Linked DNA regions of Homo sapiens. The protein of the gene in region 3 interacts with the protein of the main gene of each other region in a pairwise test. Each region holds a gene or a part of one and is shown on either strand. Other genes may lie near its edges.

Region 1 (3,500 bases), on a different chromosome or scaffold from region 3:
GTATTTTTAGTAGAGATGGGGTTTCTCCATGATAGTGAGACTGGTCTCGAACTCCCGACCTCAGGTAATCTGCCCACCTCGGCCTCCCAAAGTGCTGGGATTTACAGGTGTGAGCCACTGCGCCTGGCCCCTGCCTGGAAATTCTTAAGAATTAAATATTATTTTCTTTGAGTAAGTAATAATGTCAGATGTCACAAAATTTAAAGGATATAGAAAGTTATGTTGTGCATAGTTATTCTACGTTCTCCTTTGTTCTCTAGCTACCCAGCTTCCTTTCACAGAGGGAAATGTGAATTCTTATGTATCCTATTTTGTGACGACACAAAAATATTTAAGGGTAGATGTGCTGGCCTTACTTTCTTGCTCAAATCTTCCAGGCTCTCCCTGGCTACCAGACTAAGTATATACAATTCTTGCTTCTGTGTCTTGCTCACATGGCTTTCTCATAGTAATAGTATGTTTAGTGGAAATCAAAAGCCAGTATTTTTAGGCCCCTGTAGGTGCAGGCCAGTGCACTTGGTGCAGCATAAGGCAAGTTCCTACCTTCAAGGACCTTATCTAATTGAGAGAGGCTGACATTTCCTTACTTTTATCTATTCCTCTTTTTTTTTTTTTTCCCCGAGATGGAGTTTCACTCTTATCACAAAGGCTGGCGTACAGTGGCGTGATGTTGGTTCACTGCAACCTCTGTCTCCCGGGTTCAAGTGATTCTCCTGTCTCAGCTTCCCAAGTAGCAGGGATTACAGGCATCTGCCACCACGCCCGGCTAAATTTTGTATTTTTAGTAGAGATGGGGTTTCATGATGTTGGCCAGACTGGTCTTGAACTCCTGACTGCAGATGATCCACCTGTCTCAGCCTCCCAGAATGCTGGGATTACAGGTGTGAGCCACCGCAGTGGCCAAGTTGAATTTCTTGTATAGATGTCTTATGTCTCAGTTTAAAAATGAGGCATGTCTTACTCTTGCCTATATATTTCCAGTGGGGCATGTCTTATCCTTTTTTATATATCTCCAGTTCTCAAAACCTTGTCTTACACAGCAAACATTAATCAGAGGTTAATCACTTATGGATTTAGTTTCACTCTACTGCCATCTCTCCAAAATGCTTACAGTAAAGAGGCTACACTTACTAAATTCAAACTTAGAACTTTGTAACTTAGGACCTGTCTGTTGGAGGAGGTAAGTTGCTTAAGCTTCTCCCTCTATTGGGCATTATATGTAGAGTGCTCTAGGTTCTGCCTGCTAGCTCCTTGATGACATTTGCCTGCTTTAGCAGGACACTGACTCTTCAGCTCAAGCAGCTGTTACCATGCTGGCTATTTCCTTTTGCATTCATAGGTTTTAGATATGGAAGAAAGTTATACCCAGAGAGAATGGGGGGATAAATGATAATCTTCTACCATTTTTGACCTTAGTCTGGTCCAGCATTATAGTGTGATTTTGAGAGGAGAGATTGTGATTTCCCTGGCTAGTATTATCTAGTATTGCCTGACAATGCAAAATGGACCCCTAGGCTGTCTTATGTAAGTTGGAAGGGGGCGGATTGGGGGTGGGGTGTGTGTGTGTGTATCTACAATCCAGTGACATTTAACAACATTCACAATGTCTTAAAACCATCGCCACTACTCGTTTCCAGAACCTTTTTGTTACCTCAAACAGAAACAGTACTCATTAAGCAAGAACTCCTCATTCCTCCCTATGCCCAGTTCCTCGTAACCCCTATTCTACTTTCTCTCTATGAATTTGCCTATTCCAGGTACCTCATGTAAGGGGAGTCATACACTATCTGGCCTTTTTTGTCTGGCTTATTTTACTTAGCACATTTTTGAGGTTTATCCATGTGGTGGTGGCATGTATCTGTATTTTATTCCTTTTTATGGCTGAATAATATTTCATTGTATGAATATATCATTTTGTTTATCTCCTCATCAGTGATGGACACTTGGATTATTTCCACCTTTTGGTTGTTGTAAATAATGCTGCAGTGAACATTGGTGTACAAATATCTGTTGGAGCCCCTGCTTTCAGTGCCTTAGGGTAATGCACAGGAGTAGAATTACTGGATCATATGGTAATTCTGTGTTTACTTTTTGAGGAACTGCCAAACTGTTTTGCACAGTGACTGCACCATTTTACATTTCCCACCAGCAAAGCACAAGGGTTCCAGTTTTGCCACATCTTTTCCAACACTTGTTATTTTTTCTTTTTTAATTTTTAAAGTAACAATCTTGGGCTGGGCACGGTGGCTCATGCCTGTAATCCCAGCACTTTGGGAGGCCGAGGCGGGCGGATCACCTGAGGTCAGGAGTTCGAGACCAGCCTGGCCAACATGGTGAAACCCCGTCTCTACTAAAAGTACAAAAAAAATTCGCTGGGCTTGTTGGCGCATGCCTGTAATCCCAGCTACTTGGGAGGTTGAGGCAGGAGAATCGCTTGAACTCGGGAGGCAGAGGTTGCAGTGAGCTGAGATTGCGCCATTGCACTCCACAAGAGTGAGACTTCGTCTCAAAAAATAAATAAATAAAATAACAACCCTAATGACTGTGAAGTGGTTGTAGGCTTTTTGCATTTTAAAAAATTATTATTTTTACTATTTTAGAGATGGCGGGGGGGGGGTCTCACTATGTTTACCAGGTTGGTCTCGAACTCCTGGCCTCCATTGATCCTCCCATTTTAGCCTCCTAAAGTACTGGGATTACAGGCTTGAGCCACTGCGCCCAGCCCTCCTTTTCTTCTTATTGCTACTTAGATGTAATGGGCAAACCAGAACCTTTGAATTTGGCTATATTTGGATCTGATGGGTTTTTTCCTCCCTCTTAAACTTGTGTATAATGTTGTTCAAAGGGATACATTATGTACACAATTAATGACATCTTTTTAAAAAGAACACTTTCTTTCATCCTTGTGAGGTGTAAGAAGAAAAATAAGCAAAAAAAAAAATGAATAAAGTTTTTCTATAAGTTGATACACACAGTTGTAGTTACTTTATACTCATACCCTTTTTTTGTGTTGTGAGTGACACAGTCTCACTCCATTGCCCAGGCTGGAGTGCAGTGGTGCGATCTCCACTCACCGTAGCCTTGACCTCCCAGGCACAAGCCATCTTCCCTCCTGAACCTGCTGAGTAGCTGGGACTACAGGTGTGTGCCACCACACTCAGCTAATTTTTGTATTTTTTGTAGAGATGGGGTTTTGCCATGTTGCCCAGGCTGATGTCGAAGTGCTGAGCTCAAGTGATTCTCCCGCCTTGGCCTCCCAAAATGCTGGGATTATAGGCATGAGCCACTGTGCCTGGCCTCTCATACTTTTTTATTCTATAATGTATTTAGGGCCAGCCTCTGTGGCTCATGCCTATAATCCCAGCACTTTGGGAGGCCAAGGAGGGAGGATTGCTTGAGGCCAGGAGTTCAAAACCAGCCTGGGCATCATAGTGAGACCCCATCTCTAAAACCAAAAAAACTAGTCAGGCATGTGGTATGCGCCTGTAGTCCCAGCTACT
Region 2 (3,500 bases), on a different chromosome or scaffold from region 3:
AGCAAATTTTTGTATTTTTAGTAGAGATAGAGTTTCACCATGTTGGCCAGGCTGGTCTCGAACTCCTGACCTCAGGTGATCCACCTGCCTCAGCCTCCCAAGGTGCTGGGATTAGAGGCGTGAGCCACTGTGCTCAGCCTGGATCAGTAAGTTTCAATGACTTAGCAAAGAGCCTGGCACATAGAATGAGCTCAGGAAGTCCACATCCTACTACTGGCCTGGGAGGGGGTTTTTGCAGGACTAAAAGTTACTTTTTATTTTTGAGATGGAATCTCAGTCTGTTGCCCAGGATAGAGTACAGTGGCATTATCTTGGCTTACTGCAACCTCTGCCTCCCGGGCTCAAGCAATTCTCCTGCCTCAGCCTCTCGAGTAGCTGGGATTACAGGTGCCCACCAGCTGTAATTCCCAAGTAATTTTTTGTATTTTCAGTAGAAACGGAATTTCACCATGTAGGCCAGGCTAGTCTCCAACTCCTGATCTCAAGTGATCCGCCTGCCTTGGCCTCCCAAAGTGCTAGGACTATAGGCGTGAGTTACCACACCCAGCCAGAAGTCATTTTTTTTGTTTTTATTTTATTTAGTTTTTTTTGAGATGGAGTCTTGCTCTGTTGCCCAGGCTGGAGTGTAGTGCCGCAATCTCGGCTCACTGCAACCTCTGCCTCCTGGGTTCAAGCAATTCTCCTGCCTCAGCCTCCTGAGTAGCTGGGATTATAGATGTTCACCACCACGCCCAGCTAATTTTTTTTTTTTTGAGATGGAGTCTCGTTGTATTGCCAGGCTGGAGTGCAGTGGCGCCATCTCGCCTCACTGTAACCTCCAACTCCTGGGTTCAAGTGATTCTCCTGCCTCAGCCTCCCGAGTAGCTGGGACCACAGGCGAGTGCCACCACGCCCAGCTAATTTTTTCTATTTTTAGTAGAGATGGGGTTTCACCACATTGGCCAGGATGGTCTTGATTTCCTGACCTTGTGATCCGCCCACCTCAGCCTCCCAAAATGCTGGGATTACAGGTGTGAGCCACCATGCCTGGCCAGCTAAGTTTTTTGTATTTTAAGTAGAGACGGGGTTTCACCATGTTGGCCAGGCTGGTATTGAACTCAACCTCTGGTGATTTGCCTACCCTGACCTCCCAAAGTTGCTGGGATTACAGGCGTGAGCCTATTCTTAGTCATCTTTCTGTAACTTCCTCAGGCCACCTTCCAAGAGTCAGAAAAGGCTCTGCTGAAAACCTAATTCCGTTGCACCTGAAACATGAATACCTGCATTATTTTAACTGCTATACCCTTAGCACTCAGCCCAAGGCCGAACACAAAATTCTAGATGTTGCATGACTGTCTCAGAGCCAAGAAGGACTGTTTCAGGAGGGAGTGGTTCCAGAGCGTGGCCCTGCACTGCCTCAGCTGTTTCTGACTTCTGCTGCTTACCCAGACAGGTCCCTTAATAGCTCAGCGCCTCAGCTTCCTCATCTATCAAATGGCAATAGTAATAGTACTACCATAGAGGGTGCCAGAGCATTCCATGAAGCACTACACTTAACATGCTGAGAAGTGAGAGTTCAGTGTGTCCTCAGAGGCCAACCCCCGCTGCCCCTCTCACCAATGGTGGCTCGGATGAGCGAGGAGGCATCGCCAATGTTGTTGAGACACTCCTGTTTGATGAAGTCTGCCACAGGGGGTGGGAAGCTCTGATAGTGTGCCTTCACGTTGTTCTTGAGGATGAGGCCACTGAGAGAGCGCGTTGGCTCATCTGGGAGGAGGAAGGCTGAGGTTCAGGGGCCCAGGGGGAGAAAGCAGGGTCCCGATCGCATGGAAGGGAGCAGAGGGCGTACCTTCTGACTTGAGTCTGGTCAGGACGAAAATCAGGTAGTTGTTGAAGTCAGGAAACTGATTGAGTTGTTTGAGTTTCTGCCAGGCTGTTAAGGGACTTGGAAGACAGAGGCCTTCCCCCAGCCAGGTCCCCTCATTATGTACCTGACACTATCTCTGACCACTGGGACCAGGCTGCCAGCTCCTGGGGGATCCCGCTCCCTAATAAGCCCACAATGACACAGAGCACCTCAGACACGTCAAATTCATATAAGGGGCCGGGCGCGGTGGCTCACGCCTGTAATCCCAGCACTTTTTGGGAGGTCAAGGCGGGTGGATCACAAGGTCAGGAGTTCGAGACTAGCCTGGCCAGCGTGGTGAAACCCCATCTCTACTAAACATACAAAAAAATTATCCGGGCATGATGTGTGCGTGCCTCTATTCCCAACTACTTGGGAGGCTGACGCAGGGGAATCGCTTGAACCCAGCAGGTGAAGGTTGCAGTGAGCCGAGATTGCGCCTCTGCATTCCAGTCTGGGCGACAGAGCAAGACTCCATCTTGAAAAAAAAAAAAATCATACAAGGAGTTGGGTGGAAATGTCTGAGTTTCCCATCCACTCCTGAAGACCCAGCCAGAGCAGGAGAGGGAAGGAGAATCCCACTCCTCTTAAAGTGGCAGCTACTAGTCAGCGATCCCCACTAACAGGCCATGAAGACTTTTTTTTTTTTTTTAAAAGAGGGAATCCAAATTTTGGGGTGAGTCATGCTCATGGTTTAAATATTTATTTATTTATTTTCAGACAGAGTCTCACTCTGTCACTTAGGCTGGAGTGCAGTGGCACGATCTCCGCTCACTGCAACCTCCGCCTCCCAGGTTCAAGCGATTCTCCTGCCTCAGCCTCCCAATTAGCTGAGATTACAGGCTTCTGCCACCACACCTGGCTTAATTTTTGTATTTTTAGTAGAGACAGGGTTTCTCCATGTTGGCCAGGCTGGTCTCAAAACTCCTGACCTCAGGTGATCCGTCCGCCTCGGCCTCCCAAAGTGCTGGGATTGCAGGCGTGAACCACCGCGCCTGGCCTATATATCTTTTCTTTGAGACAGGGTCTGGCTCTGTCGCCCAGGGTGGCTGGAGTACAGTGGCACAATCTCAGCTCACCACAACCTCTACCTCCTGGGCTCTAGCCATCCTCCCACCTCATCCTCCCAAGTAGCTGGGACTACATGTGCATGCCACCACACCTAGCTATTTTTTGTATTTTTTGTAGAGATGGGGTCTCCCTATGTTGCCCAGGCTGGTCTCAAACTCCTGGGCCCAAGCGATCTACCTGCTTCGGCCTACCAAAGTGCTCCGATTACAGGCATGAGCCACCCCGTTGGGCCAGGGCCTACTTTAATAGTTAATGGAGTAGATGCTAGCGTTCGATGAACATTAGGAATTTTCATCATTTTCTATAACAATCCCCGCAGCTCTGGAAATGGGACCCAGGAATTGTAATCCTTCTCTGTCCAGGGCAGATCCTCCGCACAGCAGAAAAAATCTGGGGACTAGGGGAGTCAGTCCCTCTCTTTCTCTCTCTGGCCTTTGGAAACTGCACGCATCTACCCGGCTCCCCCAGCCCCGGAAGGAAGGAAGGATACATCCTGCACGATGCGCTGAGTGGCTGTGTTGGGCGACTGTGAGTCTTTGAGCAG
Region 3 (3,206 bases):
TTGCGCAGCTGCTCCTGGGAGACGGCGCTGTCTGCCTTTGCGTGGCTCTCCCTCGTCTGGGCGGTCTTCTCATCCTTCCGGGCTGCGTGGTAGCTTTTCTTGGAAGCCTCAACCTGGCATGCATGGAGACCACTCTGGACCCTGGATGCCACACCTTGGCCCCCTCGATCCCTTGCAAACAAACAGGAAGGAGCCTGTCTCGGATACCTCCCCCACCCAGCCTCACCTCCTTCAGCCTCTTCAGCCAGGGCTTCTGGGCCTTGCGGAAGCCGTCCTCGGCCGCCCGGCTCTCGCGGAAGCCGCCCAGCACAGGCCGGTGGAAAGCCCCCCGCTGCCAGGCGCGCACCCGCTCACTGTCCTGCCCTTGCAGCTTCTCCCGCACCTCCAGGTGCAGCGCGCTCAGCCGCTCAGCCGCCGTGAAAAAGGCATGCCAGGCCTTCTCCAGTGTGCCATACTGGGGGCCTGCAGGGAGGGACAGGGCTTAGGCCAGGCCTGGGTACCACCCAAAATGAGCCTAGCCCCTCTCACTGGGTGTGAGGCATGGAGGCATGGGGTACGCGCATGGGGTGCAAAGGTGAATGACAACCCTGTCAGCTGGGCTTATTGAATGAGGACCATGTGCCTTATCTCACTGACTCCTTGTCTCAGCCACCATCGTGAGGACAGCGACATTGCCAACATTGAACAGGCAAAACACTGAGGACCAGAGATGTGAACTCGCCCAAAGCATTATGGCTACAACAGGAGCTGAGGGCCGGGCACAGTGGCTCACTCCTGTAATCCCAGCACTTTGGGAGGCCAAGGCGGGTGGATCACAAGGTCAGGAGATCGAGACCATCCTGGCTAACACGGTGAAACCCTGTCTCTACTAAAACTACAAAAAATTAGCCGGGCATGGTGGCGGGCGCCTGTAGTCCCAGCTACTTGGGAGGCTGAGACAGGAAAATCACTTGAACCCGAGAGGGGGAGACTGCAGTGAGCTGAGATCACGCCGCTGTACTCCAGCCTAGGTGACAGAGCGAGACTCTATCTCAAAAAAAAAGAAAAAAAAGAGGAGCTGAGATTCAAACCCATCTCTGTTGTGTAAACACTACACTCCATTGCCTCAAAGGAAGAGCCTGTGTGTGCCCTCGAGGAAGACAGCTTGCAGGGTGGAAAGATCCATGCTCCCAGTCAGAGGGCCTGGGCTCAACCTTCAGCACTTCCTAGCTGTGTGCCTTTAGGCAAGTCCCTTAGCCTCTCTGAGCTTCCAGTTTCTCCTCTAGAAAATGCATAAAACAGGCCCAGGTGCGGTGGCTCATGCCTGTAATCCAGGCCGGGCACGGTGGCTCACGCCTGTAATCTCAGCACTTTGGGAGGCCAAGGAGAAAGGACCGCTAGAGCCCAGGGGTTCAAAACCAGTCTGAGCAACATAGCAAAACCCTATCTCTACAAAAAATACAAAAATTAGCCAAGTGTGGTGGTCCATGCCTGTGATCCCAGCTATTGTGGTCCCAGCTATTCAGGAGGCTGAGGTGGGAGGATCAGTTGAGCGTGGGAGAGGGAGAGGTTGCAGTGATCCATGATTGTACCACTGCACTCCAGCCTGGTGACAGAGTGAGACCCTGTCTCAAAATAAATAAATAATAAACAAAGGAAAGAAGGCCAGATGCAGTGGCTCACGCCTGTAATCCCAGCACTTGGGGAGGCTGAGGTGGGTGGATTACCTGAGGTCAGGAGTTTGAGACCAGCCTGGCCAACATGGTAAAACCCCGTCTTTACTAAAAATACAAAATTAGCCAGGCGTGGTGGTGGGTGCCTGTAATCCCAGCTACTTGGGAGGCTGAAGCAGGAGAACCACTTGAGAGGCGGAGGTTGCAGTGAGCCAACATCATGTCACTGCACTCCAGCATGGGCAACAAGTGCAAAACGTCTCAAAAAAAAAAAAAAAAGAAAGGAAAGAAAATGGGTAAAACAACCATCTCCACAGGGTTGTTGCAACTATCAAAGTAACTCATGAGCATCCTTTATAAACTTTAATAACACCACAGCCATGAGGATGACCAGGAGGATCTTCCCTTTCTAAGGGAGGGTAGACGTGGAGGCCTCAAACTTCCCACGAGACGTGCAAAAAGAAGCTGGCCCGACAGTCCTGCACTCAGCTGCCCTCTGCCCCCTGCGAGGGCCTGGCTCACCCTTCTCCACGGTCCCCCTCCACTTTCGGGCCCAGTCAGCCAACTGCTGGGCATAAGCCTTCTCGATGCGGGCGCGCTCCTGGAAGCAGCTGACCAGGTCCCCGCACAGCCGGTGCCCGTCCTCCACCCGCTGTACCGTGCGCCTGTAGTTGCCAGCCTGGGCATACAGGAAAAGGGTGCCATCACCAGGGAGAAGCTTCCTTTGGGGCTGGGGCTGTCAGATGGGCTCCTCCCCTAGACAAGTAGCTGAGCCCAGGACCCAGCTGCTCACCTCCCAGAAACTGCCCCCTAAGGCCTCCCCTCCAGCGTCCTCTTCTGGAGCCATGGTGTCCCCGCAGCACGGAATGGTGGCGGATTTGGGGCTGTGGAGGGCAGAGGGGTAAGCAGGAAAGCTGGACATTATGTTTCTGGGGATAGGAAAAGACCCTCTCTATACCTGGGCCTCGCCCCACTGCCATCCCCACCACCCAAGGAGTCATCAGAGCTAGGACTTAGCAGGCAGGGTGCTGAAGACCCTAAGAAGGGCCAGGATGGGTGAGGATGGAGTCTCAAAGCTCTTCCTCTCACTGCTCTGCACTTCCCCCCCCGCCCCCCCACATACCTGGGGCCTAGAGATCACTTCAAGGACCCGGGTGTCCAACTCTCAATGCTGCCACCGTGACTCTGCCTTGAAGGAGAACAGAGCGGGGGTGAGGGTGGGGGCCTAGAGCGTCCAGGGCGGTGCCCGGCACCCCCAATATAGCAACTGCTGTCAGAAGCGCCGGATTCCAGGGAGGAGAATGCCAGGCAGGTCACACGATCCAGCCAGGGATTAAATGGCAGGCGGGGGTGGGCGGTGGGCAGAAGGCCCCACTCCCCCAACTGCCGATGAGAGGACTCCTGCCCAGGCTAGGGCCTCTGTTGCCTTCCCTTGAGTGACAAGACAACCCTGTTACCCGAGAGGCCAAGTCAGAGGGTGCCTGGCCACATCCCAGTAGCTCCCTGTACTGAGGAGGGCACGAAGGGAACCAAGAGGCCTGGCTTCTGTGTTGG
Region 4 (3,500 bases), on a different chromosome or scaffold from region 3:
AATCTAGGGTCTGGGATCTTAAATAGAAGTTTAATTCTTGTGCTAGTGAGAATTCTAAAGATATCTCCCAATATTCTCATCTCTGGTTACTGAATCAATACTAATCTAGGTACTGCTGTGAAGGGACAGTGCAGATGTAATGAAGGTCACTAATCAGCTGACCTTAAAATAGGCAGATTGTCCTGGATTACCTGGGTGGGCCCAATGTAATCACATGAACCCTTAGAAGCAGAAAGAGGACTTACTTGCAAATAAGATAATCTTGTATTTGAAGAATTCACTAAAAAATTATTAGAACTAATAAATAATTCCTCAAGGTGGCAGGATACAGGATTAATATACCAAATTCAGTTGTATTTCTATATGCTAGTAATGACAATTTATATTTCTATAAATTAGTAATAACAAATTGAAAATAGAAATTAAGAAAATGGGCTAGGTGCGGTGGCTCATGCTTGTAATCCCAGCGCTTTGGGAGGCTGAGGTAGGAGGATTGCTGGAGGCTAGGAGTTTGAGAACAGCCTGGGCAACAGAGTGAGACCTCATCTGTACAAAAATGTTTTAAAAAAGAAAACGATTATATTAGCAATAGCATCAAGGAGAATAAAATATATGGAAATACATTTAACAAAAGAAGTGCAAAATTTGTACACTGAAAACTGCAAAAACACTGTTGATAGTAATTTCAGAAGACCTAAATAAATGGAAAGATGACTAATGATCATGGATTGGGAGACTTAATCTTGTTAAAATAGAAATACTTTGCAAATTAACACACTGATTTATTTTGCAGAAATTGACAAGATAATCCTAAAATTCTTAAGAAAATAAGAAGAACCAAGAATAGCCAAAACAATCTTGGGAAAAAAAAAAAAAAAAAAAAGATAAAGTTGGAGGACTAACACTTATTTCAAAAGTTACTACATAGATGCAGTAATCAAGACAATGTGGTATTGGTAGTAAGATAGATGTGCGGATAATTGGAATATAATTGAGGGTCCAGAAATAAACCTTCACACTGAGGGTTAATTGATTTTTAAGAAGTGTACTAAGACAATACAATGGGTGGAAAGAATAGTCTTTCAACAGATAGTCCTAGGACAACTGGATATCCACATGCATGGCAGTGAGGCTGAACCTCTTTTTTATATCATATGCAAAAATTAAGTGCAAATGGGCCTTGAATATAAATTTAACAGCTAAAACTATAAAACCCTTAAAATATTGGAGTAAATCTTCATTTCTTGGCTTAGGCAATGATTACTTAGATAGAACAAAAAAATACAAGCAATAAAAGAAATAGATAAATTGGACTTAATTAAAATGAAAATCTTGTGTGCTTCAAAAGACCACAAAAAATAAAAAGGCAACTGTGGAATGAAGAAAATATTTGCAAATCATGTATCTGATAAGGAGCTTAAATCCAGAGTATATGAAAAACTCTTACAATGCAATGATCTAAGGATAAATAACCAAATTTTAAAGTGGGAAAAGGATATGAATGGATGTTTCTTCAAAGAAGATATGCAAACCATCAATAATCCCATGGAGAGATGCTCAATATCATTAGCCATTAGGAAAATGCAACTCAAAAGCACAATGAGATGTCAGCCATACAACACCAAGATGATTTAAAAAAAGACAGAAAATAATCAGGGCTGACAAGAATGTGGAGAATTTGAGGATCTCATGCATTGCTGATGGGAATGTAACAGGGTACAGCTGCTGCAGAAAATGCTTTGGCAGTTCCTCAAAAGGTTAAACACAGAGCTACCATATAATCCAGCAACTCCACATTCACACAAAAACTAGCACATGTTTATAGCAGTATTTTTCTTAATAGTAAAAAAGTGGAAATAACCCAAGTATCCATGAACTACTGCATAGGTAATAAAGTGTTGTATAGTCACACAATGGAATATTATTCAGCAATGAAAACGAGTAAAGTACTGATATATGCTATAACATGGATAAGCCTTGATAATATTACGTTAAATGAAAGAAGGGAGTCATATACAAAATGGAATGTTGCATGATTCTGTTTATATGAAATGTCTGGAAGAGGAGGATCTATAGATAAAGAGTAGATTAATATTTGCCAAGGTCTGGGGGAAGGGGGGACTGGGTTTCATTTTGAGATGATAAAAATATATTGATTGGAGTGATGGTTATGCAACTCTGTGAATATACAAAAAAACCATTAAATTGTACTCATAAAATGCGTAAATTGAATGGCAGGTAGATTTTATCTCAGAAAAACCTGTTTTAAAAAGCAGAAGAGGAAGTCAGAGAAAGGAAGTAGACAAGAAAGAAAGAGAGATCTGGCAGAAGGACAATTTAGATAGAGGAGTCCAAGAGTAGAAGGATTTGACAACAGCCAGCCAGCAGGGACATGGGGACCACAGTCCTACAACAGAAAGGAACTGGATTCTATGAAACAACCCGAAAGAATCTGGAAGCAAGTTCCTCTTCAGAGCCCCTGGAGGAGAATGCAGCCCTGCCAGCATGTTGCTTTCAGTCTTGTGAGACCCAGAACAGGGGAACTAGTTGAGCCATGCTGTGCCCAGACTTCTGATTGCATCCACTGTGCGATAATAAATGGTCAAGCTGCCAAATCTGTGGGGATGTGACATCACAGCAATGGAAAACAAATGCAATTATTTGGGTCTTTACTGTGAAGGGTGGGGCCTCAAGAAGTGACACCACTCTCTGTATATTGTCTTAAAATGTGACACTATCACAGTAAAAGCAACTGCAATGTGAAATTTTGTGCTAAAGCTGACACCATCATTTTTGAAATTCTAGTTCATTCGATCAGGTTTAGGTGTGAGAATTTAGGTAAAATGTATAGTCAAGAAAATTCTGTGGGTTCATATTCCCCCAGCCACCTCCTCCCCAAGTGAATTGGCCAAGACTGCCCTTTTTTTTTTTTTTTTTTGGTCATTTTTCCATTCCTGAAATGGAGCCAGGAGACCAGGTTACAGACCATTGGTACTGCACAACATTTGAGGGTGGGGTTCTTATCTGATAGGATTAGTGTTCTTATAAGAAGAGACACCAGAGAGTTCTCTCTCTCTCTTTCTCTGGGTTTCTCCCTCTCTCTCCCCACCCGTCCCCAAATGCACACACTGAGGAAAGGCCATGTGAGCACACAGGGAGAGGGTAGTCATTTGCATCCCAAGGGGATAGTTCTCGCCAACCCTACTGGCACTTTGGTCTTGGACTTCTGGTCTTCAGAGTCATGAGAAAATAAACCTCTGTTGTTTGAGCCATCCAGTTTATGGCATATTGTTATGGCAACACTAGAAGACTAACACAGGCACCTATCAAAGGCTCTGGGTCTGAACACTAGACTGGCAGGAATGGACACCAGTCTGCAACAGATGCACTCACACACAATGGTCATTATAGGAATTCTGGAATGTGCTCCTCCGCATTAAAATCTGCAGCCGGCATCATGTTATGTGTAAGCACAGACATGACTCTTGATCTTGCATTCT

The links. Proteins that work in one complex are often made in the same cells at the same time.
Region 1: the proteins of PACSIN3 (region 3) and RAF1 interact in a two-hybrid assay, tested with the Homo sapiens proteins (one study listed by BioGRID).
Region 2: the proteins of PACSIN3 (region 3) and TNPO2 interact in binary tests that used the Homo sapiens proteins (3 or more experiments, as listed by UniProt).
Region 4: the proteins of PACSIN3 (region 3) and CLNK interact in a two-hybrid assay, tested with the Homo sapiens proteins (one large-scale study listed by BioGRID and IntAct).

The regions. Positions count from the first base shown.
Region 1 is NC_000003.12:12,654,118-12,657,617, reverse strand, and holds part of RAF1 (RAF proto-oncogene serine/threonine-protein kinase), read left to right. Parts: intron 1-3,500. UniProt on the Homo sapiens protein: Serine/threonine-protein kinase that acts as a regulatory link between the membrane-associated Ras GTPases and the MAPK/ERK cascade, and this critical regulatory link functions as a switch determining cell fate decisions including proliferation, differentiation, apoptosis, survival and oncogenic transformation.
Region 2 is NC_000019.10:12,717,433-12,720,932, forward strand, and holds part of TNPO2 (transportin-2), read right to left. Parts: coding exon 3,447-3,500; intron 1,905-3,446; coding exon 1,829-1,904; intron 1,747-1,828; coding exon 1,597-1,746; intron 1-1,596. UniProt on the Homo sapiens protein: Probably functions in nuclear protein import as nuclear transport receptor. Serves as receptor for nuclear localization signals (NLS) in cargo substrates.
Region 3 is NC_000011.10:47,180,229-47,183,434, forward strand, and holds part of PACSIN3 (protein kinase C and casein kinase substrate in neurons protein 3), read right to left. Parts: intron 2,842-3,206; 5' UTR 2,776-2,841; intron 2,582-2,775; exon of another isoform or gene 2,575-2,581; coding exon of another isoform or gene 2,500-2,574; coding exon 2,446-2,499; intron 2,332-2,445; coding exon 2,175-2,331; intron 463-2,174; coding exon 227-462; intron 114-226; coding exon 1-113.
Region 4 is NC_000004.12:10,566,269-10,569,768, forward strand, and holds part of CLNK (cytokine-dependent hematopoietic cell linker), read right to left. Parts: intron 1-3,500. UniProt on the Homo sapiens protein: An adapter protein which plays a role in the regulation of immunoreceptor signaling, including PLC-gamma-mediated B-cell antigen receptor (BCR) signaling and FC-epsilon R1-mediated mast cell degranulation.